Linked DNA regions of Homo sapiens. The protein of the gene in region 3 interacts with the protein of the main gene of each other region in a pairwise test. Each region holds a gene or a part of one and is shown on either strand. Other genes may lie near its edges. The genes, in order: ELF5, DCXR and GLRX2.

Region 1 (7,108 bases), on a different chromosome or scaffold from region 3:
ATTTCTCAAACTTACCACGACCCACAAGGGTCACACTATTTTACAGATAGGGGAATGGAGTCTCAGACGATAAGCAATCCATAGACCCAAGCTATGGTCCTACAGACCCACACCCACGCTCTTTCTGTCACACTCTTTCCACCACGCTTTTCCCCACTGCTTTCTCCAGGTCTGGGATTGTTTTGGTTCATCAGCTTTTCAGTATGATCCTAAAAGAATGGTCAAGCCCATGTACCAATGACAACCTTGACAGAGCCTTGGGTGGCTTGCGCTTGGTTACTTACAGTCTTTGATGGTGGCCTTGCTTTCTTCAGCGTCATTAAAAAAGGAGTAACCTGGGAAAGAAAAAGAAATCCAGAAACCATACCATGCAATCCTGGTTTCCACTGGCCAGGCCAGGAGAGGGGGTGTTGGAGGGAAGTGGAGTGACTGTCCCTCTTGAGGTTGGTTACAATTTAGAGGGAACCTTGGAGACCATCTGGTCTTAGAGTGTCACCCTGAAGCCATCCCTGAGAGGTGATAATTTCCTCATTATTAAAGGTCATTTGGAGGGAGCACCCAGAACCAGGCTTCCCAGCAGCCTCTGCAGATTTTCTGAGCAGGCACTGGGGAGTAAGCTCTGGTCTGGGGTCCAGGGCTGGGCTCTGAGCTGGGCCGGGCTACTGATCCCTGTGCAGCCTTGCTCACTCAGTCTCTGGGCTTGTTGGTTTTTCTCATTGACATCACGAGATAAAATACCCACTAAGCTCCCCTGTGGCTAAGAGTCTATAGTCTCTGACATGGCCTCTAATCCCTTGGGGATTGGAATGCCTGTTATGTGCTGGTCAGTGGGGAGAATGGGCATAGGAGGTTGCAAGAAGTGCAAAGCTCTATGTGAATGCTGAGTTTAATGAGGATATGGAAGATGATGTCAGGACCTTGGTTCTCTCCTCTGTAGAATGGGGTGGGCTGGGGTTGAATGAGGAGTTTGAGATTGTGTTTTCACATAGCAGTTTAGGCTGAAGGATACCTATGTCCTAGCTTGGTCCAACACGAGGACTAATCTCTACTTGCTAAGCAGACTGGAGCAGGGCACAGTTGTGATTTTTTATTCTTGGCGTCATGTTCTCATTGGTTTTGGTCAGCCACGCGCCTCAGTTGACTCTGTCCAAAGGGCCGACTGAGAACAGGATGGGAGATTGAAGAGGGGCTCATTCCCCTCCTAGGCTGTGGAAGCCAACCTCTGACCTTGCTTCCCAGCAACCAGTGTCCCCAGGTTGCTAGGCCCTTAAATCCTACTGCAATACCTACCGAGCTGGATGGTGCTGAGGCCTTACAACCCCCTTCCAGCTCCTCTCCTCCATAAAACTGCCTTATTCTGTGTCCTGTTCTGCCAGAGTCAAAACCTATGGGGTAGTATAAGGCATACATGAGGTAATAACCCCCAGTCAACTGTAGAATTTATGATCTAAATGGAGACACTTTTGAGGATGAAAGGTAGTGCTATGGTAATAATAATTACTCTAGGATCACAGGCAGAAACGATGTCTCCTGGGCAAATGGGAGACAGTGTGAACTTTGATCACAATATATATATCTCCACAATCTACAATCCACATATCTGATTGAGAAACATTAAAAGAGGAATTTCAGAATGGAGTAGATTGGTGGAGTAGATAGTTTTACTGCTCAATATGGAACACTCCTGGCCTAGAGAGTGCTTGAAATCCCACCATTAAAGGTGGCATTGTGATTGCAGGAATTCCTTACAATAAGAAGAGGTAATGTATGACCTATTAAAAAGCAGTTGGCTTTTTTAGGTTTAGCCTATTAGTTTTGCACAGGGCCCTGGGGTAATAAAACCAGGGACAGGTTTGTTTTTTTTTTTTTTTTCAGGATTTTGCTCTTTTTGCCCAGGCTGGAGTGCAATGGTGCAATCTCGGCTCACTTGCAACCTCCACCTCCTGGGTTCAAGTGATTCTCATGCCTCAGCCTCCTGAGTAACTGGGATTATAGGCACGCACCACCATGCCTGTCTAATTTTGTATTTTTAGTAGAGACGGGGTTTCACCATGTTGGCCAGGCTTGTCTCGAATTCCTGACCTTAGATGATCTGCCTGCCTCAGCCTCCCAAAGTATTGGGATTACAGGCCTGAGCAACTGTGCCTGGCCAACAGGTTTTTTTTGTTTGTTTGTTTTTTGATGCAACCATTGCCAGGGAAGAGAGGTGCTTGTGGTGGGAGATGCCAGCACAGGGGCTGCACAAGAGCATGGAGACAAATGAGGTTGACTTGACATTTGGCCAAGCTGGCATTGCCAAACTGCATCTTTTTCCAGAATAAAATACACCCCTCTCTGTGGCCCTAGGATTTTTGTGCGAGCCTGTTCCCTTGGGAGGATCCTAAATGGAGTCCCAAGCTCCTTCTTCTGGAGCCGTTGTGACTTGGTCAAACTTGTCCTCTTTCAGGGAGTGCCCACTCTGAGCACAGGACACAGATCCCAGCTCTTGGCAGGTCATTGTCACTGGAGTTTTGGCTCCCAGGGCCCCAGCCATGTAGTGCCCAAGGGCCACCATTCTTAGCTTTTCTGCCTTCAAGCGCTCATGATGGATGAGGATCAAGAGGAGGCCAAAGAATCACAGAGCAGGAGGGTCCTCTGTGGTTTTTCTGTGCAAACAAGAGGCGCTGTCATATCCTCCTCTTCAAGCAGGGGGCTATTAGACTACTTGATTATCTCCAGTGGTGGGGATCGTCCTATCTCCTGTATCTTCTGAATTACCTTTTCAAAAGAAGGTACTAACCTTTAAAAAGATCCTTCTTAAAACTGAGCTGAGATAGGCTTCCTTTAACATCCTATAATATGCCTCTTGATTATATTAATGATGATGGAAAAACAGCTGCCATTTACTGCATTTCCATCTTCATATGCTGTTCTAGGTAATATTTCCCTGAATCCTCTCAAAAAGCCCATGGAGGTGTCATTATCCCATTGGACAGATGAGGCAGTGGGGATTCAGACAGCTTAAGCCACTCGCCAGAGGTTCCGTAGCTCGGAGTATTGGAGCCAGGGTTGGAACACAGGTCTTTCGGATCTCCAAGCCCTTGCTTTGTACTGACTTTCTGTGAATCAGCCCTGTTTGCTGTGTGACCTTGAGGAAGTCACTTAATGTCTCAGGATATCAGTTCCTTTATCTATGTGTGACTTTGAGACATTAGAGCTCGATGTTCTCAAAGAACCTTTCTGGATTGAAAAAATGTTCATCGACATTCTGCATGCAAAAGGCCTGTTGAAGAGTTAAATAATGCTATTGGCGCCACCTTCTGGCCACTTGATCCTTGACCATTAGGAATGTGATGAAATGATAATTAGTTGGACTCCTGTAGAAAAGGGAAGGTAGTCTATTTAATTTTATTCCTCTTCTGCTTAATGAGAGATGAAGCACAAACCTCTTTTTTGTCCATCCTGTGTGGTTTCAAATCATTATGAATATACTGTATTATTATCAGCCTGGTGCCTGGGCAGTCCCTGAACGTGGTGTCCGTTTTTCTTTCTCTTTTTTTAAATGCACTCAATTTGCATTTTTGTAACTCGCTCCCTTTTCCCTAAAATCCCCAATTCTGGCATACTAGCTTCCAGTTATTGAAGGTTTGGATTAACGAGAACTCCAGTTAGTAAAATTTTGCTGTGCAATTCACACGATGGGAAAGGACTTCTCAAAGTTGTTTGGTCCTAATCCTGGTCCCTCCCCTGGAGGTCTGGCCCTCTGAACACTGACCTTGTGTGCGGATGTTCTGGAGGATGAAGTACAGGTACTCGCCGCAGAGGCCAGCTGCCTCGACGAACTCCTCCTGTGTCATGCTGCACAGCTGCAGGCCACTGATGTTGAAGTTGCAGAAGGAGATGCAATTGGTGTCCAACTTGTACTGGTCGCAGCAGAACTGGAGCCACTCCCACACATGGCGCTTAGTCCAGTATTCAGGGTGGACTGATGTCCAGTATGAGTCACAGGCTGCACCAAAGGAGAAAGAAGTGAGGGACAACAGTCCCAAGACAGCCTTCGAGAGGGCCCCTGAAGGATGCATCAGTTAAGTAACATCCTCATTCCTCAGCCAATAAGTTGAAAGGGCCTCCAGCCCTGGGTGTTCTGCAGAGCCCAGGTCACCTTCTATTCTGCAGAGAAAACCAGAGGGACTGGATCCTACAGATGAACTTTGGCATCATAGAGGGAATGACAGGGGCAAGAAAGAACCAGTCTTGGTGCTGATGCTCAAAAAAAAAGGCATTTAGTGGAGAAAGAAAGAAAACAGCCCTTCAGTTATTTGATTCCAGATAACATGATATCAAAAGCACAAACTCAGCTGTTTGACAAGCTGGGTTGAAATTCTGATTCTACCACTTTCCGCTTGGCAAGGTCTGTGGACATTGAAGTCTCAGTTTCCTCATCTGTAAAATGGGGATAATATGCTCAATGCCCAGGACTATTATGGAGTTTGGGGTTAATGTATGTAGAATGGCACACAGAAACTTACCAACCAATTCAATAGTTACTAAATGCCTACCGTGTGTCAGAAACCATTTGAAGCTGGTTTTGATTCCCTATGCTTTAAAGGGCAGCTGCCCAATGCTGGCTATTTGTTTCTGCACAGTTACTGGCAATCTTGTGCCAAGAACCTTGGGTTATTAGACATTGCCCAGAGTCTGACAGTCCTTGCGTCACCATAGTAGGCACCTCCAGAGGAAGGTGGTCATGGGAGAGTTGGTTGTATTGTTGTTCTTGTGTTTTTGGTGGTGTTCAGAGTAATTTCTATCCTGAGATCAGAGCCCCCACTCCTTTAGAGGAGTCGTGTACATGCCTAGACAGTTGTGAGTGCCATCTGTCTGGGAGGCTGGCATGTGGCTTTGCCTGGCCCAGGGGTAGAGATTTGGTGTTCAACAGTTCTGTCCTTCTGTTCTTAGGAGAAATGGAAAGTGGGGTGGACATAAGGTATGGAAGAGGTGCTGTATTAGGTACTTGGTCAGGCTCTTTGACATAAACAATTATTGTATCTGCCATGGAAAACATTCATTCATTTATTCATTTCATTCAATAAATAAAAGCTTTAGTTTCCTTACTGGTAAAATTGGAATAATTACAGCACCTGTATCATAGTGCTGTTCTGCAGATTAAATGACTTAATATACATAAAAGTACCTGGAACAGAGCCTGGAGGATTTAAATGCTATTACAAACATTATTATTGAATATCTACTATGTGTGCAGCCACACGTTGTATGTTAAGGATTCATGGTGGACAGGTTTGGTCCCCCGTCCCCCAGGAGATCACAGAAGAGGAACTTGAAAGTCATGAAGGACTTTCCCAAGAACCCACGCCAGCGTGTGGCAGAGCTGGATTTGAACCCTAGCCTGAACTTGAAAGCCATTGCTCTCCCCACACCACCATACCGGGTCAGCACAGAGCAGAGATGGAACGTGAAGAGTGGCTGAGGCACGGGGAAAGCTGGAGAGAACACAACACGAGGGCCTGAAAAGAAAGGCAGAGAGCAGAGAGTGGCTAAGGTGACGATGACAGAAAGGGTCCCTCACATGTTATACCCCACAGCAAATAGCAGTGGTGCGATTTGCAGCGTTTAAAGGTGAGTAGAACTCGCACCATTGTCAGTTGCTGATGATTCCAGGCAGGAGGTGGGTCCTCTGCCTGTCAGGTGCTACTACTCACTCAGCACCCTCAGCCAGCCGAGGCGCTACGCGTTCTTGTCGTCTCAAGTTTCTCAGGTCCCCTCAACAATCCTATCCAGTAGGTGTAATTGGGCTATTCCACAAAAAAGGAAATAGAGGCTCCCCTTAAAACTCAAAGGTCTTCCAGAGATCTCTTTTACCACCGAAGGGTGGGTGGAGGGGCAGTTGATTTATTTTATTTAAAAATTTTCAGAATTTTATATGCATTAAGATCAAAGCGTCAATATTGTGCCAGGGTGCTTGAGGCTGATGTCGTAGCCTCTACCTGGCAGATAGGAAGAGCCAGGGAGCCGGTGAGACCGATGACTCAGGTCTTGCTCACTGGCCACTGGCTGGAGCTGGCTTACCAGGCCCGTGGGGGCTCTTCAGGGCAGGCAGGGGTTCCTGGCAGAACAAGGGGCCATTCCTGAGTTCGGCCTGAGCTTTCATCTACTGATTTCTGGCTTTAGTAAACCTGAGGGGCCTTTTGGACTTTACTGGCGTCCTGTGAGAGATGTTTATGAGCCTTGACATTTTTCAGCTGCGGGCCCTGCCCTAGATGGCCATCGGTGTGCGGCCGTCGGAGGGCACAGTTGATTTCATGGAAAGGTTTCGCCAAGGCTCTGTTCCCGTTTCCCTCCCCTCCCCTCTCTGCTTCCACCCCCTTGTTATTTTCTTTGGCACTTGAAGAGGGCCATATTGTTTGCGGAAGCCAAGGGGGCCTCAAGGATTCGGAGAAACGCCCAGGCGGGGAGTCGGCCCCACACCGGGGAGGTGTTGCTGGCGCTGGCTCCCTGCTCCTCGGCGCTCTGCTTTGAAGCTCACCCACAGAGCGGCTTTGTGTGCGGCCTCGGCCCCTGGAGGGGAGCCAGAGCCCTGCGGAGGCTCCCTCTCCTCATCCGCAAGCTCCTTCCAAAGCCCCAGAACTGGGAGGAAAATGGCTGCTCTGGGTGCCATGGCAGGCCTCTTTTCCGGGGGTCCCATCCTCAGGACGGGAGGAGAGTGGCAGAGCGGAGGCTGCCCAGACGAGGGACGCCGCTGTCAGCCCCTCCTCACCAGCCCCTCTCCTGCTCTTCTCTTTCAGGAGGCTCCACGGCCCAGAGTCTTCCCACAGCGACTTCTCTTTGGATGGAACGTGGTCCCCATCTGCCTTCTCCTGAGGAATCTCTGCTCATCCTCACTCCCCCTCGCAGAGGTCTCTTCCTCCTCACTGAGTGCCCATCAGGCGTCCTCCTCATCCCTCCCCTCCAGACCTAGAGCTTTTGCTCGCCCTGAACCAGGAGTGCTTGGAGCCTGGCCTAGCCCACCACAGGCCTACCTCAGTGAGTGTGACTGACTGACCAGGTGACTGACAGTCACTCTCTCCACTTTACACGTGAGGAGATTGCCGTTCCGGGGACTGACGGGACCCCT
Region 2 (6,613 bases), on a different chromosome or scaffold from region 3:
TTACAGGCACGTGCCACCACATCCAGCTGATTTTTGTATTTTTAGTAGAGACGGAGTTTCACCACGCTGGCCAGGCTGGTCTCAAACTCCTCACCTCAGGTGATCCACTGGCCTTGGCCTCCTGAAGTGCCTTTGTTCTCCTTTTTGCCCTTTGAAGCATGTGATCTCTGTGACCTACTCCCTGTTCTTGCACCCCCTCCCCTTTCAAAATCCTTAATAAAAACCTGCTGGTTTTGCGGCTCAGGCGGGCATCAGGGTCCCACCGATATGTGATGTCGCCCTGGGAGGCCCAGCTGTAAAAGTCCTCTCTTTGTACTCTTTCTCTTCATTTCTCAGCCAGCCAACACTTATGGAAAATAGAAAGAACCTACATTGAAATACTGGGGGCTGGTTCCCCCGATATCTGGCGCGCCAACGTGGCTTTTCTTTTTCCTGAGTGCATGTGGGGACCCGCTTCCCTTTGGTAGTTGTGTAGAAACGTTCATCGGTCCGGTTCACAGAAATGCTTGTTCGACTCAAAAAAAAAAACCAAAACTGACTCATATGGTTTAGTAATAGACTGGGTACCAAAGGGCTATTTAAAAAACAATTGCTCCTGTGGCGGGAGGGAATGCCTGGAGGCTACTTGTTTTATTTCTTATTGGAAGAACGAGGATCATCATTTTACTTTGTATAGGAGGTTCAGCTCTTTCTTTCCCTTAAAATGGGAAAATAAGGACATTGTCCCCCGAGGGCTCGTGTGATACTCCCCATTCTGAGCTCAGAACACCCAGAACTTTGAAAATTGGCTCTTGCCACATCCAGACTGCGAGTATGGGAAGGGGAAACTTTTCTGTCTGTTGTCCCTGCTACCGCCCCTCGCGTCCGTGATTCTGAACCCCATGATAAATCTCCTTTGAACCCTTTTCCTCTTTTTGATGCCAGTCCTCTTTTATGGGACTCCAATTGGCATTACGATAATTTTTCTCAACCCAGGTATGCCACTCTACCTCTTCAGCATCCCCGGGCACCTCAAATTGCTTTTTTTTTTTTTTTTTTTTTTGAGACGGAGTCTCGCTCTGTCGCCCAGGCTGGAGTGCAGTGGTGCGATCTCGGCTCACTGCAAGCTCCGCCTCCCGGGTTCACGCCATTCTCCTGCCCCAGCCTCCCGAGTAGCTGGGACTACAGGCGCCCGCCACCACGCCCGGCTAATTTTTTGTACCTTTAGTAGAGACGGGGTTTCACCGTGTTAGTCAGGATGGTCTCGATCTCCTGACCTCGTGATCCACCCGCCTCAGCCTCCCAAAGTGCTGGGATTACAGGGGTGAGCTACCGCGCCCGGCCCTTCAAATTGCTTTTTGACAGCGGATAACATCGGGTGTGGCCACCACTGCTCCTCTCCCTCAGTATCAGTGTAGATTCAGACATTCTGCTTTGTTCACCTCCAATGTGACTATTCCTATAGAGTTGTGTTAAGCTTCGTTATATGCTGTTAGTGGGGAATATCAAAATTTGGACGAACAATCAAACTATCCAATGTATTAATTGTCATTTATATACTTGTGTTAACTCCCGTTTTGACTCTAGGAAAAGTGTAATGTTGGTTCGAGCTCGAGAAGGAATCTGGATACTGGTAACTTTACCCAGACCTTGGGAATCTTCCAAAGCTGGGCAAGAGGGCAGAGGGCTAGGGGCCAGGATCGGGCCCTCCAGGCAGTGGTTGGGAGGGCACAGGGCACAGGGTGGGGGTAGGGGATGCCGAGGGTGCTTCTGACCAGCCAGCAGGACTCACAGGGAGCAGGGCTTGAGCCACGGATAACAGGACCAGTGAGGCCTGGTCCACTCTCCTGGGGGCACGTGCAGGCCGCTGGAGGGGTCTAAGCAGATGGGCCTTCCAGGAAGGACAGGTTGAGGGGTGTCCTTCCCTTGGCTGCTGGCAGGCAGAAAGCAGGCTCCAAGGGTAGGGGCAGAAAGCAGAGTTTACAGGGCGGCCAAGGGGGGGTTGGACTGGCCGCAGTGCCAGGTCTGATATGGACCATGCACTTGGCTGTCCTCCAGAACAAACCAGGACCTTGCCTCCTGCTGTGCCTGGCCACCCTTGCCTCCGGCCTGTCCACCTCTGTGGGCCCAAAGCCCCAGATGATCCAAAGGCCCTACAGTCACCAATTCCATACTCCTGGCCACAGAAGGTCACTCCTGGCCACAGAAGGGCAGTAGTTCTAGACTTTCCTACCATGACCCACAGAACAAAGTAGCTTTTACATGGAGGCCCAGTGTGTGGGTGCACACACACACGCATCTGTAACTGACCCCAAAGCCTCGGGAAGCAATGCTGGTCTTTGCTGGACCACCATGTACTTCCATGACCCCAATCCCTTCCTATCCTATTCAACTTCTAAAAGGTGCCCCTGGCCGGATGCTGGCTGTCCAAGGTGACCTGGGGTTCAAGTCCCTTTCAGATGAATGTAGGGTACAGCCCTATGGGGCTTAGCAGGTCTTCTCCCCGTGTGCGGAGACACGAGATTGTGAGAAATAAAGACACAAGACAAAGAGATAAAGAGAGAACAGCTGGGCCCGGGGGACCACTACCATCAAGACACGGAGACCAGTAGTGGCCCCGAATGGCTGGGCGCACTGATATTTATTGCATACAAGACAAGGAGGGCAGGGTAAGGAGGGTGAATCTTCCAAGTGATTGACAAGGTGAAGCAAGTCACGTGATCATAGGACAGGGGGCGCTTCCCTTTTAGGTAGCTGAAACAGAAAGAGAAGACCATACATCAGCGCTTTCTTCTATGTACTTATAAGAAAGATCAAAGACTTTAAGACTTTCACTATTTCTTCTACTGCTATCTACTACGAACTTCAAAGAGGAACCAGGAGTACGGGAGGAACATGGAAGTGGACAAGAAATGTGACCATTAAATCATAGCACCACAGGGAGGGGGTTAGGCCTCCGGATGACTGCGGGCAGGCCTGGATAACATCCAGCCTCCCACAAGAAGCTGGTGGAGCAGAGTGTTCCCTGACGCCTCCAAGGAAAGGAGACTCCCCTTCGCAGTCTTCTAAGTAACGGGTGGCTTCCCAGACAACGGCATTACTGCTTGACCAAGGAGCCCTCAAGCAGCCCTTATGCGGGAGTGACAGAGGGCTCACCTCTTGCCTTCTAGGTCACTTCTCACAATGTCCCTAGGTTATATTAGTAATGCAACAAAGAGTAATATTAAAAGCTAATGATTAATAATGTTTATACTAATGATTGATAATTATCCATGATCATGATCATTTTTATATCTAATTTGTATTATGACTATTTTTATTTTAACTGTTTTTTTTTTAAAGATGGAGTCTTGCTCTGTCGCCCAGGCTGGAGTGCAGTGGCGCAATCTCGGCTCACTGCAAGCTCCGCCTCCTGGGTTCGCGCCATTCTCCTGCCTCAGCCTCCTGAGTAGCTGGGACTACAGGTGCCCGCCACCGCGCCCGGCTAATTTTTTGTATTTTTAGTAGAGATGGGGTTTCACCGTGTTAGCCAGGATGGTCTCGATCTCCTGACCTCGTGATCCACCCGCCTCGGCCTCCCAAAGTGCTGGGATTACAGGCGTGAGCCACCGCTCCCGGCCTATTTTCTTTGTTATACTGAAACAGTTTGTGTCTTCAGTCTCTTGCCTTGGCATCTAGGTAATCCTTCGCCCACAGATGAAAGCGGAGCTCTGCTGACATTGGTGTCTTCTCCAGACGTAGTTGGTTGTCCAAATTCTTTCCCTTGGCTTTAAAGTGAGCCGGCGGTGTCCTGCTCCCAAGCCTGAGAGATGATGGGCACAGGCGACACTTTTTAGGACATGCCGATGTTTTCAGAAACAAAACAAGAAATGTTAGCCCTGAAATTCTCCATTTCACGTGTTCTTCCTGATATTAACCACACATTCTTTCCGATATTAACCACCACATCGTCTTTTTGCAATAATCTTGGCAGGGAAAAATATGCTAGCCAGGGTCCACTACGTCGATTTCAAGCACGGAAGATGGGTCACACCAGGCACTTCAAAAGACCCGTCCCTGAGGCAGCGGAGACCCCGCCCCGCCCCGGCGCGCCCACTCCTTTCGGCCAATCACTGCAGCGGGGAGCAGCTATTTGAATGTCCCCACCGCCTATCTGAAGGCCGCCCTGCCATTGGCCCCGCCGCGCCCCGCCCATCGTGGCCAGAGCTTCAAGTTCCGCAGCCCCAGTGCGGAGGGCGGAGACTGCGCCGACATGGAGCTGTTCCTCGCGGGCCGCCGGGTGCTGGTCACCGGGGCAGGCAAAGGTGGGCGGCGGGGAAAGGTGGGCAAAGGCCGGCGGCGGGCAGAGGCGGGCAGGGGACGCCTTCACTGAGCCCGCTCCCGGCAGGTATAGGGCGCGGCACGGTCCAGGCGCTGCACGCGACGGGCGCGCGGGTGGTGGCTGTGAGCCGGACTCAGGCGGATCTTGACAGCCTTGTCCGCGAGGTAGGTCCCGCCGGGTCCCAGCGCTGCGAGGCGGCGAGCCAGGAGGGGGCGGCAGCGAGCGGGGGCGGTACCTCTGTGCGCGACTCCGCCTCCCCTCGCGGGCGCTGCGCTTCTCACCGCGGCCTGGGCGCCCGCGCACCCTCTCTCGGGGCTGGTGGCCTGCGTGGGCGGCCGGGTGGTCGGCAGAGCCGCCGGGGCCCCCGGGCTCAGAAAGAGGCCGAAATGGCTGCGAAGCAGGCCCCGGGCAGGAGTCGCTCGGGCGCAGGGAGGAAGTGAACCGGCCGGAGGTAGCGCCCGGCTGCTGGCCCCACAGTCCCGACACCTTCGGAACTCCTAACTCCTTTACTTGTCCGGCTGAAAGGTCACCAGCCCCAGTCCCCAGCTGTGCCGCTTGCTGGGCACAGAGCCTCTGGTAACTGCCCCCTGATACACACAGTGCCCGGGGATAGAACCCGTGTGCGTGGACCTGGGTGACTGGGAGGCCACCGAGCGGGCGCTGGGCAGCGTGGGCCCCGTGGACCTGCTGGTGAACAACGCCGCTGTCGCCCTGCTGCAGCCCTTCCTGGAGGTCACCAAGGAGGCCTTTGACAGGTGAGCCTGTGAGGGCGGAGGAACCTCAGGGAGGGGCTGTCCTGGAGGACGCAGCAGCCCTAATCTCTGACCAGGGTCTGTCCCTCGGCCTCTAGATCCTTTGAGGTGAACCTGCGTGCGGTCATCCAGGTGTCGCAGGTGAGCTGCCCTGTGGGCTGGACGGGAATTCTCGTGAGTGATGCCAGCTCTGCCTCACGGTCTCGCTGCGATTCCAGATTGTGGCCAGGGGCTTAATAGCCCGGGGAGTCCCAGGGGCCATCGTGAATGTCTCCAGCCAGTGCTCCCAGCGGGCAGTAACTAACCATAGCGTCTACTGTGAGTGCCCCAGCTGTGCCCTCAGCCCCACCCCAGCCCCAGCCTCGCCCTCATCACCGACCCCAGCCCCAGCCAGCTTGGGTTCCTCTTCGTAGGCTCCACCAAGGGTGCCCTGGACATGCTGACCAAGGTGATGGCCCTAGAGCTCGGGCCCCACAAGGTGAGCAGGGCTGGGGTACCTCCCCCAACCTAGGACACCCCACTTGCCCTGCTGACCCCAGCTGTCCCGGTGTAGATCCGAGTGAATGCAGTAAACCCCACAGTGGTGATGACGTCCATGGGCCAGGCCACCTGGAGTGACCCCCACAAGGCCAAGACTATGCTGAACCGAATCCCACTTGGCAAGTTTGCTGGTGAGTCAGGTGGGAGCCCAGCCAGCGTGGTGCCAGCAGTCCCTGTGTGTGCCCTGGGTAGGGGTGGGAGGGAAAGATGGGCGGCAGCCTCCTTCCTCTATGCCCCTGACCCCCGCCCTGCCCACAGAGGTAGAGCACGTGGTGAACGCCATCCTCTTTCTGCTGAGTGACCGAAGTGGCATGACCACGGGTTCCACTTTGCCGGTGGAAGGGGGCTTCTGGGCCTGCTGAGCTCCCTCCACACACCTCAAGCCCCATGCCGTGCTCATCCTACCCCCAATCCCTCCAATAAACCTGATTCTGCTGCCCAGACTATGTGCTATTCCTAGGCTGCCAGCAGGTAGCTGGGGGCTTGGGGCCAGGTGTGGAACGCGGGCAGAGACCCATGACATTCACATTCCAATCCAAGGGGGAGCGTGGCTCCCACTCCTGAGGTTTTCAGGCCTGGCCAGTTCTCTGTCAGGGAGGTGGGAGGTGGTGAAAGGTCACCTCCCAAAGAGGGTGGTGAATTTCAGCAAGGTTGGCCTTCGGGCCTGTCCAGAACCTCTGGGGTGAGACGGTGTGTGCATGTGAGTGTTGATGGCCCCCTCTGTGAGTGTACAGTTGGCTCCTCTTCCTTCAAGCTAATGAGTAAGACAAAAGGGAAACAAGGAGAACGTCAAGCTTCTCCACTTCGTCGGTGATCTGAGCCACTTTGTTGAATCAGATGATGGTTTTCGGAAACTAGAAGAGCGTTTCCTCAACTTGTGCTATTCACAATGTAATGAGCATAGACACAGCACCCTGAAGTCTAATCTGCATTTTATCATCTGAAGTCTAGACAAGTAACCATAAGTCAAGCCTCCTCCCACCACGGCTGATTTCAAGCTACCAGTTAGATGTCATTTAAC
Region 3 (7,503 bases):
ACCAAGGAGATCCAATTATCCAGTTTGAAGGCCATCAGGCAGGAAGAGCTAATGTTCAGTTCCAAGGACATCTAGCAGAACTCTTTCCTGGCTGGAGGAGGGTCATCATTTTGTCCTATTCAGACTTCCAACTGATTTGATAAAGCCTACCCACATTATGGAGGGCAATCTGCTTTACTCGGTCTTCAAATTTAAATGTTAATTTCTTTCCAAAACATCCTCACAGAAACACCTAGTGGCCAAATACTTGGGCATCCATTGTCTAGTCAAGTTGACACATAAAAGTAATCATTAAAGATATTGGGCTTTTTTTTTTTTTTTTTTTTTTTTTTTTTCAGAATTGAGTTGAGCTTGACTCAACAGTCATCTCCTAGGATAAATTGTACCTGTATTGATAATTGTTCTAAGGTGCTCCAATAATATGGGGATCTGTTGGGGCTGGGGGATGATGGTCTGATCTCAGTCTGGTTGGCTACTGGTACAGCAGAAGAATAACATGTTGAATTTCCAATAAAAAGAAGCAGCAAGCCCAATTCAATAAAAACTTCAAAGAATATCTAATAAATAGCCTTTGCGAAACCAAGAAAAGAAAGTAGAGGGCAGTAAAAGTAAGGCATATGACAGAACTAGATTTGTTGGTTTATTTGCTCTTTCAACACGGATTTTTAAATATGGAAACACAGACAAGTCATGCTTGCTTTTTTAAACCAACAAATTAAAATTGCGAACATGGCTAATTTCAAATCAGATTAAATAAAAAATTTCTGCATGGAAAGCATGTAATAGCTTTTGTCTTCTTCCTTACCACCTGGAGAGCTCTTCCCCTTCCCTTCTCCCTCTGCCCCCACCTTGTCTGCCTAACTCTTACTCTTGTTAAAACCTTAGGTTACAAGTTTCTTCCTCTGCCATTCCTTCCAAAATATCAAATTCAATTTAGGCCTTCCTCTTATGTATTATCCTAGGTTTTCATGAATGCTAGTGTCATTTCTGTGCTGTTCACTACAGTGCTTGGCACATAGTGGGCACATAAAATTTATAGAATTCAGGAACAAGAGGTTAACTATGGAATCCCATTATTTAATGGTGAGGGACTGAATATATAAATGGATAATGGGCAGAACACACATGACAATAAAACTCTGACTTCGAGCAAACAGACCAGAACAATTAGAACTTGGTTAATGACTACCAGCTTTCCAAATATGCTCCCCAAACCAGTCATATAGGATGCTTCCCTTCCAGTTGGCCTGCCTTCACGTCTTCATGCCAACAACTTTTTTTTTTTTTTGAGATGGAGTCTCACTCTGTCACCCAGGATGTAATGCAGTGGAGCCATCTTAGCTCACTGCAACCTCTGCCTCCCGGGTTCAAGCAATTCTCCTGCCTCAGCCACCAGAGTAGCTGGGAGTACAGGCATGCGCCACCACACCCAGCTAATTTTTTTTTGTATTTTTAGTAGAGACGGGGTTTCACCATATTGGCCAGGCTGGTCTCGAACTCCTGACCTTGTGATCCACCTGCCTCAGGCTCCCAAAGTGCTGGGATTACAGGCGTGAGCCACCATGCCTGGTCTGTCACTTTACTTTTAAAATGTACAACTTGATATTTTGATACATGTATATGTCTTAGTCCATTTTCTGTTGCTTATAACAGAATATCTGAAGCTGAGTAATTTGTATATAAATTGTTCTTACAGTATTGAATGCTGAGAAGTGCAAGGTCAAGAGGTCACATCTGGTAATGACCTTCTTGCTGGTGGGAACTCTGCAGATTCCCCAAGCCATGTAGGACATCATGGGACAAGGCAGCAGAGAACTCTGTTTTATAAAGCTGCCAGTTCTACTCCCATGATCACCCATTAATCCATTCATTCATGTTCCAGCTCTCATGCCCAATCATCTCTCAAAGGCCCCACCTGTCAGCACTGCCACATTGGACAGTTTCAACATAAGTGTCAGAGGGGACAAACATTCATTCCAAAGCCTGATACACTGTATAATAACTATCACAATCAAGCTAATTAACATAGCCACCACCTTTCATATTTACCATTTTTTTCTATTCCCTTTATTTTCTTCTCTCTTTTTCTTTCTTTCTTTTTTTTTCCAGACAGTCTTACTCTGTCGCTCAAGTTGGAGTGCAGTGACGCAATCTCAACTCACTGCAACCTCTGCCTCCCAGGTTCAAGCGATTCTCCTGCCTCAGCCTCCCGAGTAGCTGGGATTACAGGCGCGTGCTACCATGCTCGGCTAATTTTTGTATTTTCAGTTGAGATGGGGTTTCATCATATTGGCCAGGCTGGTCTTGAACTCCTGACCTCAGTTGATCCACCCATCTCAGCTTCCCAAAGTGCTGGGATTACAGGCGTGAGCCACCGCACCTGGCCCCATTTTCTTTCTTGTGTGCAAGTGTGAGAACACAAGATCTACCCTCTTAGCAAATTTCAAGCATACATTGCGATTTTCCTAACTATAGTCACATTGCTGTACTTTAGCTCTCTAGAACTTACCTATCTCGCATAATTGAAACTCTGTACCCTTTGACCAACATCTCCCCATTTCCACCTTCTCCCAGGCCCTGGCAACCACCGTTCTACTGTCTGCTGACATATTTCTTAACTTGCTATTGCAGTCATCACAACTATGACCAAAAATAATAATCACTTCTGTAGCTACCCCACGAAGCACAAAGAAGTTGAAAATTATCAATATATTTATTAATATATTATGCTGAATTCAGGCATAACACTTTCTTCTGAAGTACTTTACATTCTGAAATCCTTAAAAAAATCTGTCCAGTGAATTCTGTGCTTGATAATAGTCCATCTATGCTGTATTAAAATTAAATTGTAACATGATCGGTTCACCTCATAATGATCTTTATTTCATAAAACAATTTGAGATGAGGTAAAATTTGACTTCAAAACTAACATAACACCATAAATTTCCAAAATAGTTTTATAAAAAAATTAAAAAGCCCACAACACTATAGATAGATAACATACCTTAATTTTTATTTTATTTTATTTATTTATTTTTTTATGAGACGGAGTTTTGCTCTTGTTGCCCAGGCTGGAGTGCAATCGTGTGATCTTGGCTCACTGCAAACTCTGCCTCATGGATTCAAGCGATTCTCCTGCCTCAGCCTCCCGAGTAGCTGGGATTACGGGCATGCGCCACCACGCCCGGCTAATTTTGTATTTTTAGTAGAGACGGCGTTTCACCAATATTGGAGGGGCTGGTCTTGAACCCCCAACCTCAGGTGACCCGCCCGCCTCGGCTTCCTAAAGTGCTGGGATTACAGGACTGGCCACTGCGGGAGCTGCGGCAGCTGCGGCCTCTGGGTACGGGGTCAGCGGGCAGTCCTGTAATGGCCACATTACAGGACAGGCCATCGCGCCTGGCCACATGCCTTAATTTTCAAAGTCAAATTTGTCTTTAAAAAGAATGAATTCCTACCCTTTGGGGGTATTTATTTTTGCAACTAACTTCCATCCTTTTATTAAGTAATCAAACATAGCCCATTTGAATGTTGGAAAAGAACTGTCAGAAATACAAGTTCTTATTTTGTACTTTGGTAACATGAATTTTACACTTAGTTGAACATGAAGAATCAAAAAAGCTCTGGATTGTTGTAATAATTGTTTAGAATTTTAGATGTACCATTTGACCTTTGACTTTAAGATGAATTTCAGTGTCCTCAGTAAATAAAGGCTTACCCCCAACCTTAAATAGTGACGCACAAAGGCTATTATTACCACCACTGAGTGGCTTAAATAATCCTGTCAACAGCAATCGCCCATTTCCAAAGCCATGGTGAAACATCTCTGTGCTAATTTCTTTTGTTTTGTTTCCTAATTTTTTTTTTTTGGCAGGTGGTGGGAAATAATCTTTGTCTTCTTTGGAGTAAACCTTCAACACCGGATTTTTTCTTTTAATTATGGATGTAAACCCCAATATCCCCATAATTTACATTGGGTCTCGACCAATTGCCTAATTATAAGAGGATATATTTAGGCTCTTATTTCATCCACACAAAAACTTGTGTAACAGGTAGTTGGAAACATCTGAGGCACCACTTTGATTCTGTTTTGGATGGTCATGTTTTTTCTCCTCCGTTTCCCCAGCATGTCTGCCACCATCCTCATGCACTGCTTCCAAGTGCCTGGGAGCCTTTATGAGCGTCCCTAAACCTAAAAGAATCCAGAGGCGGGGCTCGGATGAACCCTCGAGATAAGCAAGTGAGCCGCTTCTCCCCTCTAAAGGATGTTTACACGTGGGTGGCACTCGCTGGAATCCAGCGCTCGGGCAGCCCTGGGAGGACGCGCTCAGCTGCGAGGAGGTGACCGGCGGCGGCGCGGGCAGTCCGGAGGGGCGGGACGGGGCGGGGCAAGGCGGGGGCCGGGCCGGAGGAGGCGGGCTCCCGGGATCCGCGGTGTCCGGCAGTAGAGCTCGCTGCAGATCCGGGCTCTGACCATGATTTGGCGCCGCGCGGCGCTGGCGGGGACGCGGCTGGTTTGGAGCAGGAGCGGCTCGGCAGGCTGGCTTGACAGGGCGGCGGGAGCTGCGGGAGCTGCGGCAGCTGCGGCCTCTGGGTACGGGGTCAGCGGGCAGGAGTGCCGCGGCGTGGTGCGCAGGCCTTGCGGGGGTCTGGAGAAAGCGGTGGGCGGAGGTGCCCCTTTGCCCCGGCGCCGGGTGGGCGAGGCGTACTAGCGCGTGGGCTCTGAGTCATAACACGCAGAGGCGCTCGAGGGATGGGCAGGGAAGGGTGCCCTCCGCGGCTGTGCTGACTTCAGGAGCCTGTGACTCTCGCGTTGAAAATACTTCACTCATGTTCACTTAGGCCATCCCTCTGTGAATTGCTACATAAAATACAAGACGCCGCAATCAATTGGAATTTCTCTGAAAGAGCGAATGATTCTTAGTCCAAGTGTGTCCCAAATACTGCAGTGGACATAGGAAAAACGGAACAGTTTTCTGGTGTTTGGTTACAATTCTAATTTGACCGGGCGTCCTGCATTCTTGTTTGCTAAACTTAGCCACCCTACTGCAGGAAGTGAAGGCGATGATTCCCGCTGAATGGCCAGAGCTTTTAGGATAGAGGCTGACTGATGGTGATGCCGCCTGCGGCTAGACCGAGGATAGTGCTTTCCTTACACTTCCTCGTTTGGAATATCAGCGGCTTCGGGACCTGCAGTGGAAGGGAACTGCGGCTGTGCTGCCCACGCCCGCGCGGCTGGTGCCTGGCGGTCCTGCCGGCTCGCACTTCCGCGCCTGCCACTGCGCACTTGGCCGGAGAGTCTGTCTCGCTATCTACTTGATCTGGGAGCTTCTATCAGTTTTGCAAGATTCTAGGAATCTCAAGTTTAACTTTCCAGACCAAGCTAGAGACCCCTCCTGAAGGGCTAATCACAGGCTGTTAAGTGTTTGACAGCTCTTTGAGGCCCCGCCGTGTTTTTTTCTGCGTATCCCTGGGGTCAATATAGCACTTTGCCTACTTAGCACACAGTAGGCGCTCCATAAATGTGGCATGACTAGGTGCTTCATCTGTGTTGAAATGAAATGTTTATTGTGCACTTACTTCCTCCGTGCATGTTTCTATTCATAGTTCGCGACAGTTTTTACCAAGGTCAACTAGAAATTGAAGGGAAAGGGTGTCTTCCAGAAACTTTTATTTGGGTAATATTTCAGAATGCACCTCCTACCTCCTCTCACTACCCAAGAAAACATTCTCTTGTGTTCTATTGGAGCTCCTTCAGTAGTAAATGCTGTAGTAGATGGTTTGGGTATGACAGTTTAAGTGCTGGACCTGAGATGAAAGGACTTGCTTTCTTAGTTGATAAACCAAATACAGCTTGCTGATTTATTCCACCAATGCTCTTCCTTAGGGCTAGGCCAGTGCTGCCTAACCTTTTCTGGTTTAGGCTTCAGGAACTCAACTTTCTTTTATCTTAAAGCTTCACCCTCCTCTCAGGTTGGCTGCAGTCTCCCTAGCTCGCTACCCTTAACTCCTTCCTGAGTTAAGCGCACAGGACTTTTTTTTTTGTTTTAAAGTGTTCCTTGCTAATACTATTAGGAAGCAAGGAATAATAGATTGTAAACATTGGGTAGGTTATAATGTTATAATGTTTAATTCCTGTCTCTTACTCTTCTTTGTTATAACTGAACAAACTGATGTTTGCTGTAGCTTCCTCACTCTAGGTGAGCTGATATCATAATCGTTCCCCCTTATCCGTGGTGGACACGTTCCAAGACCCTCGGTGGATGCCTAAAACCTCGGATAGTACTGAACCCTATACATGCTATTTTCCTATACATACTTGCCTATGATAAAGTTTAATTTATAAATTAGGCAGAGTAAGAGATTAACAACAATAATAAAAGAACAATCACTTTAATAACAAAATGCTCATTTCAAGGAATCCCTTGCTGAATCTTCTCATAGGCCCAGTGCTTTTTGGCATAACACATTGCTGTCAGTTGGAACACTTTTTCTGTTCTTGTCTCCACAAATTTAATACCTTTTCTGGCTTAACTAAGCACTTATACCTTGTGGCTGTAACTTGCAGTTTGAGGTGTGACATCAAAACTGCCATGAATTTTTTACTTCTTTACAACTGCACTGATAGAAGATCCGTTCTTACCATAGACCTTAGCAACCTCAGCGTGTGATTTTTTTTTTCCTATTAGGTGGAGAACTTTCACCGTTTCACTTAAAGGAAGCACTTTAGGGCTTCTCTTTGACGTACCTGAATTGCCAGCATCACTACTCTAGTGGTTTGGAGCCATTATTATTATTATTATTTAAGACGGAGTTTCACTCTTGTTGGAGCCATTATTAAGTAAAATAAGGGTTACTTGAACACAAGCATCACCACACTGTGACAGTCGATCTGGTCACCAAGACAGCTGTTGACTAAAGCGTGGGGAGCTTATACAGAGTCCATATGCTGGACAAAGGGAGGATTCATACCCTGGGTAGGAGGAAGCTAGATGGCTCAAGATTTCATCATGCTACTTAAAACTTACGAACTATTTTCTTCTGAAATTTTCCATGTAATGTTTTTGGACCACAGCTGACCTTGGATAACTGAAACCGTGGATAAAGGGGGACTACTGTGTAGGGCAGATGTTCATTATCCAAGGATAAGATGTACTGGAAAAAGCTATTAGAGTGGATTCACTTAAAATAAGACTAGTATTTCAGGCCAGGCGCGGTGGCTTACACCTGTAATCCCAGCACTTTGGGAGGCCGAGGTAGGTTGATCATATGAGGTCAGGAGTTCGAGACCAGCATGGTCAACATGGTGAAACCCCATCTCTACTAAAAATACAAAAAATTAGCCAGGTGTGGTGGTACATACCTGTAGTGTCAGTGACTCGGGAGTCTGAGGCAGGAGAATTGTTTGAACCTGGGAAGCGGAGATTGCAGTGAGCCAAGATCACGCCACTGCACTCCAGGCTCGGTGACAGAGCAAGACTCCATCTCAAAAAGAAGACTAAT

What was found.
Region 1: the proteins of GLRX2 (region 3) and ELF5 interact in binary tests that used the Homo sapiens proteins (3 or more experiments, as listed by UniProt).
Region 2: the proteins of GLRX2 (region 3) and DCXR interact in binary tests that used the Homo sapiens proteins (3 or more experiments, as listed by UniProt).

What each region holds. Positions count from the first base shown.
Region 1 is NC_000011.10:34,489,725-34,496,832, forward strand, and holds part of ELF5 (ETS-related transcription factor Elf-5), read right to left. Parts: intron 3,989-7,108; coding exon 3,755-3,988; intron 336-3,754; coding exon 285-335; intron 1-284. UniProt on the Homo sapiens protein: Transcriptionally activator that may play a role in regulating the later stages of keratinocytes terminal differentiation. Isoform 2 binds to DNA sequences containing the consensus nucleotide core sequence GGA[AT].
Region 2 is NC_000017.11:82,035,301-82,041,913, reverse strand, and holds DCXR (L-xylulose reductase), read left to right. Parts: upstream 1-4,216; 5' UTR 4,217-4,231; coding exon 4,232-4,283; intron 4,284-4,366; coding exon 4,367-4,464; intron 4,465-4,900; coding exon 4,901-5,055; intron 5,056-5,150; coding exon 5,151-5,193; intron 5,194-5,270; coding exon 5,271-5,370; intron 5,371-5,465; coding exon 5,466-5,530; intron 5,531-5,605; coding exon 5,606-5,723; intron 5,724-5,850; coding exon 5,851-5,954; 3' UTR 5,955-6,056; downstream 6,057-6,613. UniProt on the Homo sapiens protein: Catalyzes the NADPH-dependent reduction of several pentoses, tetroses, trioses, alpha-dicarbonyl compounds and L-xylulose. Participates in the uronate cycle of glucose metabolism.
Region 3 is NC_000001.11:193,102,355-193,109,857, reverse strand, and holds the start of GLRX2 (glutaredoxin 2 isoform 2 precursor), read left to right. Parts: upstream 1-4,443; 5' UTR 4,444-4,475; coding exon 4,476-4,594; intron 4,595-7,503. UniProt on the Homo sapiens protein: Glutathione-dependent oxidoreductase that facilitates the maintenance of mitochondrial redox homeostasis upon induction of apoptosis by oxidative stress. Involved in response to hydrogen peroxide and regulation of apoptosis caused by oxidative stress.